3 linked regions of the Homo sapiens genome follow. The protein of the gene in region 3 interacts with the protein of the main gene of each other region in a biochemical or structural test. Each region holds a gene or a part of one and is shown on either strand. Other genes may lie near its edges.

Evidence for each region.
Region 1: of the proteins of KCNA4 (region 3) and LNX1, one has a biochemical effect on the other in vitro, tested with the Homo sapiens proteins (2 studies listed by BioGRID and IntAct, with this or other methods).
Region 2: the proteins of KCNA4 (region 3) and PTPN3 interact in a test that uses a peptide from one of them, tested with the Homo sapiens proteins (one large-scale study listed by IntAct).

Annotation. Positions count from the first base shown.
Region 1 is NC_000004.12:53,507,900-53,511,551, forward strand, and holds part of LNX1 (E3 ubiquitin-protein ligase LNX), read right to left. Parts: intron 329-3,652; coding exon 87-328; intron 1-86.
Region 2 is NC_000009.12:109,488,285-109,491,936, forward strand, and holds part of PTPN3 (tyrosine-protein phosphatase non-receptor type 3), read right to left. Parts: intron 1-3,652.
Region 3 is NC_000011.10:30,014,835-30,018,586, reverse strand, and holds the start of KCNA4 (potassium voltage-gated channel subfamily A member 4), read left to right. Parts: upstream 1-1,556; 5' UTR 1,557-2,015; intron 2,016-3,752. UniProt on the Homo sapiens protein: Voltage-gated potassium channel that mediates transmembrane potassium transport in excitable membranes. Forms tetrameric potassium-selective channels through which potassium ions pass in accordance with their electrochemical gradient.

The sequences.
Region 1 (3,652 bases), on a different chromosome or scaffold from region 3:
TTACAGAACTTTCCACAGTAAGTATTCCACAGAGGGCAATCGCAAGCCAAGGAGCCCATTCCCGGACAACCACCCATTTGACTCACCCCTAGTTCGGTTGCTCCGGCCAGAGTCCACTGGGCTGATTGCTGGCTGCCCGTCCTCTGCCGAGGACACGTAGGCAGGGTTGTCTAGGCCAGGCTCGTCTGTCATTAAGGAGATGGTGGCAGCTGCAGAAACCTCTGGGGAGGGAGCCGTGGCTGTGAGGCTCGCACAGCCGTCTGGACAGCCATCTTGTGAGCGCCTCTTCCTATCTTTGGTCAGGCCGTAGTGGGAGGCACCTTTACAGCTGTAACAGAACCAGCGGGGAGGTGAAGAAGAGCTTTGGCTCTGCTGCCATTCCTCAGTCAGCCCTCTTCAAATACAATTGAAGAATGTATAATAGGCTTGTTGAACTTGGAATTTGATTTGCCTGCCGCTATATCCTCTCTTCCCTTTTCACACATCGGTACTCAATATACATTTGCCAACCAAGTGAATTCATAATTTGAGATTTTTTAAAGACGCCCACTGCATTCTCTTAAAGCAATCTCTACATTGGCTGCTGGAATGCAAATTTATTCAGGTCACCATGGTGTCTACATGAGTAGGGTTTGAGGCTGGCAATGTTCAACTATTTGGTAATTCCTGCTTGCTGGTGTTTATTTTGACCATGAAAGCCCTTAGTCACACCCTCACTCTTCTTTTGGATTTTGTTCCCAGAGCACTGAACGTAAATATAAAGCTCCTCCCAGATTCCATATTTAACTGTTCATGCAAACAGAATCACCCTCACCACAAAGCCACAGGAGTGAGTTCAGCATTGCTATCCTCTAGTGGCAGCTTGGTGGCTTCCATTCTCTTTCTCTGGGCTGGTCTGGGAGGGCCTCCCTGGTGTTGGGGGCTCCCATGATCTGAGAAGTGTCATTCATTGCCATGTTGTCTACCATTAAGAGAGTAAAACAGCTTTTGTGGTTTTTAGCAAAAACATATTTGTCTCTACCCATTCACTATCCATGCTATAAAAAAAAATCCAGAAAACTCCACAAAAACCAAACTTTGTGAGAAAAGCAAGTTATTGGTGCAATAGAAAGAAGTTGAAAAAGAACATTCTCGAGGCTCAGAAGACCAAGGTTGGAGCTGATCTAGGTCCATATTTTGCCATGAACATGAACACTGCCACTCGGCAAGTCATTGCAGCGCACAGGCTAGGTTTTGGTCAGGAAATGGTGATTTAACTATCTCACTCTACTGTGGGGAGGGTAGCTACAGGTAACCACTCCAGTTTCCACAGTTGTGAAGGCAGAAATCATATCACGAGCCCCTTTAGGAAGTGTCCATTTGCATATAATGGATGTGTTAATTATAAATTCTTATCAATTCATTACTCAAAACCCTATATGATTGAGCTATTTTAAATAGCCCTTTGAGATCCTACTTCAGGGATGCTTCATGTTTTTGAAAGTAGATGAAATCAAAGGTCAGTCTACCGTGATATGCACACATGATTTTTACTGCCCATAGAATCATAGAAATGGCAAGATGGAAGGTCCTATTGTCTAGATCTAAATCCTTGCTCTGAAATTTACATAGCTGGGTGATCTAGGGAAATTTTATTTACCTGGCTAAACTTCCAAATTTGCATATACTTTCTGGATTGCTGTGAGGTTTGATCGACATTAAGTCTTATCAGGGGTTTAGTACTTTTTGCCAAAAGTACTAGAATGCAAATTCATTAAAGTCGTCATGGTATCTACATGACTACAAGCAGTTCTCATGAGATTGTCGCTATTTCCATATTTTGTACATCCTAAGATGCTCTTTTCATGCTTTAACATGTCTAAAATCAGGATGCATGTGTGATTGATGGGGTTGTGAAGTTTCTGTTGCCAGGTGGCAGTCATGATGCAGACGTCACCATCCCAGCACTGCAAACCCAGTCGCACGAGTACCCCTTATCACTTCCATTGAGTTGCCTACATACTTGGTATTACACCATTGAGTTTAATTGCCATTTGAATGTAATGATTCAGTACTAAAATGAAAAGTTATAGAAAGCCTCAAAAACAGAACAATTGGATATTGATGAAGTACATATTCATTGTTAGAAGCAGAATCACAATTCTGTGTTTTCTTGCAAAGGGACAAGCAAATGTTTTATCTGCTTAGAAAGATGCACCCAAGGGAATTAAAAGTGGTGTTACATTTTGTTATTGAGAACATTCAAAAAGGATTGCCTATTTCATGCCAAGCAACACAACCAAGGGCAGGAGAAGCTGCCAAATTCATCTGAATGGATTTCAAAGCCACAAGAGTCTAGTTCACCAATCTATGCATCATGGGGATATCTTTGGTGTTTGGGGATTATTTAACTGATGGCACATTTTAAAATGTCATCTTCTTTGCTGTTATATGAACATACCTCTCATAGTCAGTGGCATCTTAGATTAGATGAAATGTGGTTTTAATATTAGTAGAAAAGGAGTTTGGTTATACAACCTTATGTCCTCATCTTCTAGATGAGAAAACAGGCCTCCAACTTACACTGCTAGTGCTTGTCCTCAGCTGGAAGAGTTCAAATTCCTGGCTTGAATTCGTGAGGTTTTACTGTACCGATTAGCTGCGTTGGCTTGGAATCATTCTGTTTAAACATAGTGAAGAGGTTGATCTGGGAAACTCAAAAATTGGTGAAACACTGTGTGATGGAAAAAATAAAAGCCAACTTGCATTTGAGCGGCTCCAACGTAACAAATACTTGAATGAAACACTTCCAGGCAGGCTGGTAGTATCTGATTAGCAGTGCATGGAAAGGAAGTTCCTAGCTGGTCTGGAAATGGTCTTTTCTGAGGAGGCAGCAATGCTCTTGACCATGTGCCCTGCCAGAATAGTAACGTTATTTTCCAGCTGGACAAATGGCTGGCAAAGGTACAAGCCATGGCTTTGTTGGGAGGACACAGCATGTCCTAGTAAAAGAAACTGGCACCTTTCTCTGCTGCCCCATCAATGGGGGTTACAGTATTTTAAAAATATCTGAATCCCAAGATTATGCCATTAAGAAACCATTGCACTTTCAAATTCTTGGGGTTCTAAAGATAAGTTTTTGAGTCCAGGAAAGGAAAACCTCATAAGGTAGGTAAGTAGCCTTTCCTTTGGTCTCATATCACAGCTGTTCTTACAACAGCTGGGGAGGGTGCAGATTCTTGATTTAAGTATTCAGACTCACGTGCTTTGTGTAATAAAGGTTCTGCTAATGCAACTCATACTGTGTAATGTTAGCTTTCTCCAGTCTCTTGGCTTAGCTTGAGCCAGAGACAGAGTGATCTATGAAGGTAGCAGCTTGTACTTACTAATTATCTCTTTTGTGGTGACTAATACTGGGGCAGCTTGATTTACAAGCATTAAAGATGGAAGAAGCGGGGAAGAGCTGATTAGCATTGGCCAGGACAAGAACATACGGTAAACCCTGGGTTGTGTTCAAAGCAAGGAGGATTTATGCTTCCTTTCAGTTACTCTGAGCACTAAGTACTCTCAGATGGTGATGGGTGATGGCCATGAACTTGAAGGATGAATACAAGGAACACAGAAAACCCCTTTTCAACCAAAGCACAAGCTTTGGAGGTGCTGTCCATTCAAA
Region 2 (3,652 bases), on a different chromosome or scaffold from region 3:
AGGCGGGGTTTTGCCACGTTGGCCAGTCTGGTCTCGAACTCCTGACCTCAGGTGATCCACCCGCCTCTGCCTCCCAAAGTGCTAGGATTACAGGCATGAGCCACCGCACCAGGCTGAAAGTACATTTTTAAGCAGTAAAATCTAATAACACAGTTAACCAGAAAATCTTTCCAACATTCAGCAGTACTAGTATCTTGCATTCTAGGAACCGGAACATTCCTTTACTAACTGGCTTTTCCATTAAAGCTGCTGATGCCTAGAGTAATAAAAACACGACTGCACTGGACAGTGTTCTTAAAGTTCACATGACTGGGATGCTTCCCAGAAAATAGCTCCATTATCTTCACATTTTCATCCTATAATAATTTGTAATCCAGGAAGGCAAGGTTTGTATTTTCTTCTAGGCAGAAAATAAGTTAAAGAACCAGACTGTATGGATCCCAGAGCCTGACCCCTTGACCGAGTGTCTGGTCACTTGATATTACAAATCTAGACTTCCTGATAAATGGCCCTGTAGTGACCTTGTTACTGGGATCCCTAGATGCTGGTTTCCTGCCTGGTTTCTCTGCATCCAAGTCCCTGTCTGCATCTACTGTCCATCCAATGCCCATCCTCTTCTGCCTGGGTCCCCAATGCCACCTGCTTCCCTGCCTTTGCCAAAGGTCAGTGACTTAGTCATCATCTCAGAACTAGGGCTGGAACAGGGATGTGGGCGTTGGTGCAGGAAGAAGAGGTGGAAGTGTGAGCACTAGAGGAAAGAAGATAAGGTCTAGGGTGACTCCCGCCTCCTGCCCTTCTTTGCTTACACACCCTGGCTCTTAAATTCTATTAGAAATTGGTCAGTGGGAAGCACAGCTGGCTTGTTCATCTCCCTGTCCATCTATCATAAACTCTGTCCCTGCTCCTCCATCCAGCCAGGGTATGTGAGTGACGTTCCAGACTCTGCCAGTCCTTGTGGCAGACAGGTACCATAGTGAGGTGAGAGCTGACAAAAGGCCGGTGTGGCAGGCACAAAGCTGGGAGTGGCATCCTACTGGAGGTGGGACCACAGAGGTGTGGGGACCAAAGCCACAAACATCAGGCCTGCAGGCCATGCAGAGGTTAGTTTTGTCTTTATCCAGGTAGAAGATTCCTAGTGCTAGAGGGTTTTCCATGCTGGCTCACCCTGCACTGATCTCAACCTCGAAGTCACTCTTAAATCCGGACGTGACCACACGTCCGGATTTACCTAGGGCAGTCCCGGCTTAGACCCGTCAGTCATGTGCAATTATTAATAGGACCCCTTTTTATTCTCAAATTGTTCTGGTTGGGATGATAAATTCTAGTTGCACTGTTCTTGGGGGCCTAGGCCTGTGAAGTCAGTGCTGCAGTTAGAGAAGTCTACCCATGATTAGCAGGGACGCCCAGCCTGATGAGTCTCACCCCTCATCAAACATTCCATTTGCCTCTCCAGTATCCCTGCCAAACCATCATCTGGCTTCTGCTTGTATATCTGCAAGGACAGCAGGCTCACTATCTTCTCAGGAAGCCTCTCTTTTTTGGGGAAAGCTTTGTTATAAAAATAGCAGGATTCAAACCTGTATACAGTATGACTGCAACTAAATAACAACATCCAGGCCGGGTGGGGTGGCTCATGCCTATAATCCCAGCACTTTGGGAGGCCGAGGTAGGTGGATCACTTGAGGTCAGGAGTTCTAGACCAGCCTGGCCAACATGGCAAAACCTCATCTCTATTAAAAATACAAAAAATTAGCTGGGCGTGGTCGTGGACACCTGTAATCTCAGTTACTTGGGAGGTTGAGGCAGGAGAATCACTTGAACCCAGGAGGCAGAGGTTGCAGTGAGCCGAGATCGCGCCACTGCACTCTAGCCTGGGTGACAGAGCAAGACTCCATCTCAAAAAAAACAAAACAAAAACAAAACAAAAAAAACCCCACATCACTCAGCAGGGAAAGGCGTGGGGCTGGAAGAAAGCAGAAAACCTGCTGACTTTTCCCCTTGCACCTCCTTCCATCTCTCCCTCTCCTCATTCAACAAATATTTACTGAGTGCATTTGATGGTCCAGGGACTGTGCTTGGCACTGGGGACAAAATGGTGAGTTAAAACAGACTCAATGTGAGGGGCATTCTACAAAATAATTGGCTTGTACTTTCCAAAAACGTCAAGGTCTGGCTGGGCATGGTGGCTCACGCCTGTAATCCCAGCACTTTGGGAGGCCGAGGTGGGCGGATCACCTGAGGTCGGGAGTTGGAGACCAGCCTGACCAACACGGAGAAATCCCGTCTCTACTAAAAATACAAAAAATTAGCCGGGCGTGGTGGCACATGCCTGTAATCCCAGCTACTCAGGAGGCTGAGGCAGGAGAATTGCTTGAACCCAGGAGTCGGATGCTGCAGTGAGCTGAGACTGAGCCACTGCACTCCAGCCTGGGCGACAGAGCGAGACTCCATCTTGGAACAACAACAACAAAAAAAGTCAAGGTCCTGAAGGACCAAGAACAATTGGGGAACTGTCTTAGTTTAAAGGAAACTAACGAGACATGACAACCGTACGCAACCCATTTATAAGAGTTTTTTTTTTTTTGCTATAAAAAAGGACATCACTAAGACAACTGGCAAAACCTAACATCTAGGCCGGGCGCAGTGGCTCGGGCCTGTATCCCAGTACTTTGGGAGGCTGAGACAGGCAGATCACTTGAGGTCAGGAGTTCGAGACCAGCATCCAACATGGTGAAACCCTGTCACCACAAAAAATACAAACATTAGCCGGGCATGGTGGCACACGCCTGGAATCCCAGCTACTTGGGAGGCTGAGACAGGATAATTGCTTGAATCCAGGAGGCGGAGGTTGCAGTGAACTGAGATCACACCACTGCACTCCAGCCTGGGTGGCAGAGTGAGGGACACTCTCTCTCAAAAAAAAAAAAAAAAGTATATAAAACTTGAGGTTTATAGATTAAACAATGTTGTATCACTATTAATTTATTGATTCTAAAATTTGTATTGTAGTTACGGAATATCATCGCTTTTAGGAAATATATGTAGGGGGAAAGGAGGCATTGATAAATAATCCTCAAATGGTTCAGGATAGATATATATGTACACAGGGATAAAATAAAAAGAATAAAATGGTAATGTTTGGGGAATCTGGGTGAAGAATTTATGGGACTTCTTTGATTTATTCTTACAACCTTCCTATGGGTCTGAATTGTATCAAAATAAAACATTAAAAGAAAAAAAAATAAAACTTAGAAAAAGTTTTTTTAAAAAAGAGACCCTGCCTTCACACAGCTTACAGTGTAGCCGGGAGACAGGTACTAATACAAATAATTACATTAATTAACTGCAAAATTGCCACTAGGAAAAGTGCTATAATGGAGAGAGATCTGGTGGCATGAACATTTATAGCAACAATTTAACTCAAGTCAGGAAGGTGAGCAAAGGCTCTGCAATCATGGAGCTGAGACCCACAGGATGAAGTAATCAGTGGGGAGGGGGAGAAGGTCCCAGGCTCTTGCAGTCCCTGCAGCAGGAAGGAGCACGGTGAGGTGAGGGCTCAAAGAGCATGAACATAGGGCCTGCAGGAGATGCTGAGAGATCAGCTTTGTCTTCATTTTGAGAAAAATAGGAGTGTATGGAAGACTCCCCCGTC
Region 3 (3,752 bases):
ATTTGTGTGTGTGTGTGTGTGTGTGTGTGTGTTTGTTTGTGTGTGTGCGCACGCGCTCGCGTGTGTGGGAGTGGGGTGGAGATGGACAGCAAAACCCTTTTTTTTTTTTTTTTTTTTTTAAATGGAGGTGGGCAGTGGGAGAGATCACTAAGATAGAGTCCTCCCGGGAGCCAAACCTCTCGCCCGGTTGATTCTGGCAAGCCTGAGACAGGCAAACTGTCTACTTTCCTGTTTTGATGTGGTCCGAAGAAATAAACAAGAAACAAGGAGAGACCCTTCCTCAAACTGTAACTCCAGCCAATTAGCATGAAAAGCTCAAGAAGCTATTAACCAGAAGTTTCGGCTTTAGGGGACCAGGGACTTGCCCGAGGCCCTGGCATGCGCGGCGGCTAGGTTTAACTTTCAACTCATAGTGACCTTTTCCTTAATTTAATGCAAAAAATCTTTCCCAGAGGTGGAGATTTAAGATGCTAATGATACATACGTCCTATGAAGAAGCATGTTAAACCACCATGCATGCACCAGAAAAACTCCACCTCTACATGCCCTGTCTATAGTTCTCCTTATTTCCCCTTACGGGAGAGGCCCGTAAAAGAAACCCACACCCTGACTTCGAGGAACAGCCCACTTTTTTTTTTCTTGGTGTTAGCTCCCTTGTGCGCACAAGCTTTAATTAAAAGAAAGAAAGAAAGAAAACCAAAAAAACTTGCTTTTTGCTGCGATATCCCTTGATTTCTGTCCTGAAGGATCCAAAGAGCCCTCAGGGAGTCGATACCAGAGCCGTATTTGTTTTTGCAGCAACAGGTTGGCTGCGGGCTCTTCCCCCGCCTTCCAAAGCCCTCAGCCCCTGGCCCACCCTGCAACTTACTCATCTCTCCAACCCTCCTCCCCTAGAACTGCTGCCTCCTGTGCGCAGCCCCTAGCCTGGGCCTGATTCCAATTTCTGTAACATTCCCCTGCCCGGGATTGAATACAGGTTGAAAGTCGGTCTCCTCCGCGCCCCTGAGGCCCAACCCCGGCGCTGAAGCCTCCCAACTCCTGTGTGCAAAGGAGACGGAGACTGAGGGATCTGGGCGCTCTGGCAGGCACAGGAGGGCTCCCCGCCCGTGGCCTCGCCGGAGATGCACCCGGCTCCCAACCCAACAAACCCGCTTTGGGAGGGGATGGGGTGGGGAAAAGAAGACGGGGCTCGGGGCTCGAGGGGAGATATAGAGAAAGCAAGTTAGGTAGAGGAGATGTCCCAGAGGACCCCATTTTCGGGACTGCACCTCCCATTGGAGCTCCCCGCTCCCAAGCCCTCTGGGGACTCCCGCGCTGCCGTCGAAACCCCTATTCCGGCCCCAACGGGGACACTTCTCCAGGATTTGCTCCTCGCCTGTGGGGACCACAGCCAAAGACTCCTGGAATCGATCCCAGATCCTGGGAGTCGGGGGGCCCAGCCGGGGTGCGGGGAGTCGCGGCGTCGTGACTGCACCCGCCCCGCCGCGCCGGGAGGCGCCCCTGGCGACCGTCGCGAACGCCACACCCTCGGTTCGGCCCTGGCCCCGCCCCCGCCCAGAGCGCGTTCGCGGCCAGGGGAGGCGTGTGCTGCTCCCGCAGCCAGCGAGAGCGAGAGAGGGATGGATGTTGGAGGAGGAATTCGGGCTTAACAAGTGATCGCTGCTGTCTAGGATTTTGTTTCTTTTCGGGGGAACCTTGACTTCCTTTCCCAGGCAATCCCTCCTGTGCTGAACTCCAGAGGAACCAGGAGTCTTGGGGTCTTCTCTGGGGCAGCCCCAACCCCCACCCCCAGGCTCCAGCCGCGAGGACTCTGTGCACCCCTCGGGCCAGGCAACAGAACTTGTTCCGTGGATATTTGGAGCCTCCACCTGCCAAACCCGAGTGATTCCTTTTACCACCCCCCGCCCCCCACCCAGGATCATTCTTCCCCTCCTCCAGCTGTTGCAGCTTGAGGGGGAAAAACAAGCCAGCCGGTGGATTTTCTTTATTTTTATTTTTCGCCCCGCCGGGGAACGGTAAGTATGATACCTTTTTTTTTTTTTTTTTTTTTTTGTATCTTTCCTCTACCTTCTTATTTTGGCTGTTAAGAAACAGTGGACATTTGAGGGATAAATAATATCGGGAATGTGACAGAAGGGCATGAATGGAAGGCGGTTAAAAATAAACCAGGAGGTGGGAGAAGGGAGGTGCGGATGCTGCGCGGCGCTCCGGGGGGCCAACAGTTGTTATTTTCCCAAACCCGGGGATGCGGTGAGTGCGCCCTGCTTAACGTGCTGGAGCGGGAACCGAGGTCTGGAGGCGAGGGCGCGATTAAAGATGTCGTTTCCCAACGAGAGGGGGGTTAAGATTTAGCATCGTTTCGCCTCCTCCCAGCCGCACCGGTTCCCTTCTTTTGGGAACAGCCGGTGAACGGGTCTGAATTGCTGCCTCTTCCAACGTTTGGATTTGCGTGCATTTTCCGAGCATTTGAGCAACATACATAGGGGCTGCATAAATGGCGTGCGTTGAAGTGTATATTTCTCACGGTGGTGGCTTTTCTGATTCCCTCTCTCAGTTTCTCTCTCTTTCTCTCTCTCTCTCTCTCTAAGGTTCAGGTACCACCCTGACAGTGACACAGTTGCAGGAATTAGCACTGAGAGACGAACAGCCTTGTTGTTGGAGGGGTGAGAGGAGGAGGGGCGGGATGCTTGGCTGTTGTTTGGGGGCGCCGGGATTGGGGAATAGGTAGTCTGCAAAATCCTATTAGTTTAATGGTGTTAAAGAAGAAGACAAATTCCTCTGCAAAGATCTCTCTCATAAAGGCTCCTGGGAATTGGCTTGAATAGATTCTCCTAACAAGAGTACCTTGAGAAAGAAGAGAGATTTTAAACCAGTCTGATTTGCTGGGAGGAATGATTTTTCTTTTCTCTTCTTTTCTTTCTCTCTCCCTTTCTTTCTAGATCAGGGATAGTGAAGTAACTAGTAGATGATTAAAAGGAAGGCAATTTGCTACTTGTAGGGTGGAGGAGGGAGTTAGATAAACAAAAACTAACAATCCCAAATAAATAAATAAATGTGAAATTATTTGGTGTAGAGCAGAAAGAGGGCAGTTCTAGAACTCCCGAAGAGCTGATGGTGAATTAGAAGACTCGCTAATTCATGACCTTCTGGGAGTCAGTTGGGTGGGAAGGCAGTGTGTGTAGTATTCAACTATACAGGAACTTGGGTTACATTGGGGCTTCATTGAAATTATAATTGTTTTAGGGGAGTTGGGGAAGAAACTGAGCAAACTCTCAGGCTATTTGGTCTGTACCGGTCTTGAAAGGATGTTGGCCTGACACTCCACTGCGAATGTCACCCCAGGATGGTTTTGTAAGTAGGGATTTGGAAACTCCTTGAGGGTAAACATTTCAGAGTATGAGATGATGTTAGGAGTCAGGCAAAGGAAGGGAGATGGCATGTGAGATGCCCTCTGTGGTGTATTTTCTGGAGTTTGTGTTGCAATCAAATGCCCTTCTTGCCCTAGGAAAATATATATGATTGGGAAGGGGTGTATGATTGGGAAGACCTCTGTTTGCCACTTCCATGCTTGTCACTTCATAAAATTCAGTGTGTTTAGGCTTTTAGGCTGACAGGATCAGCAAGGAGCAGCAGGTGGTCAAGAGCTGAATCCTGTTAATGGCTTCAGAAAGCCATTTCTCTTATGCTTTCCAAGTGCTTCCAGTAATAGAAGCTGGTAGATGCCCTGAATTCTGACTATCATCATTCTCTCC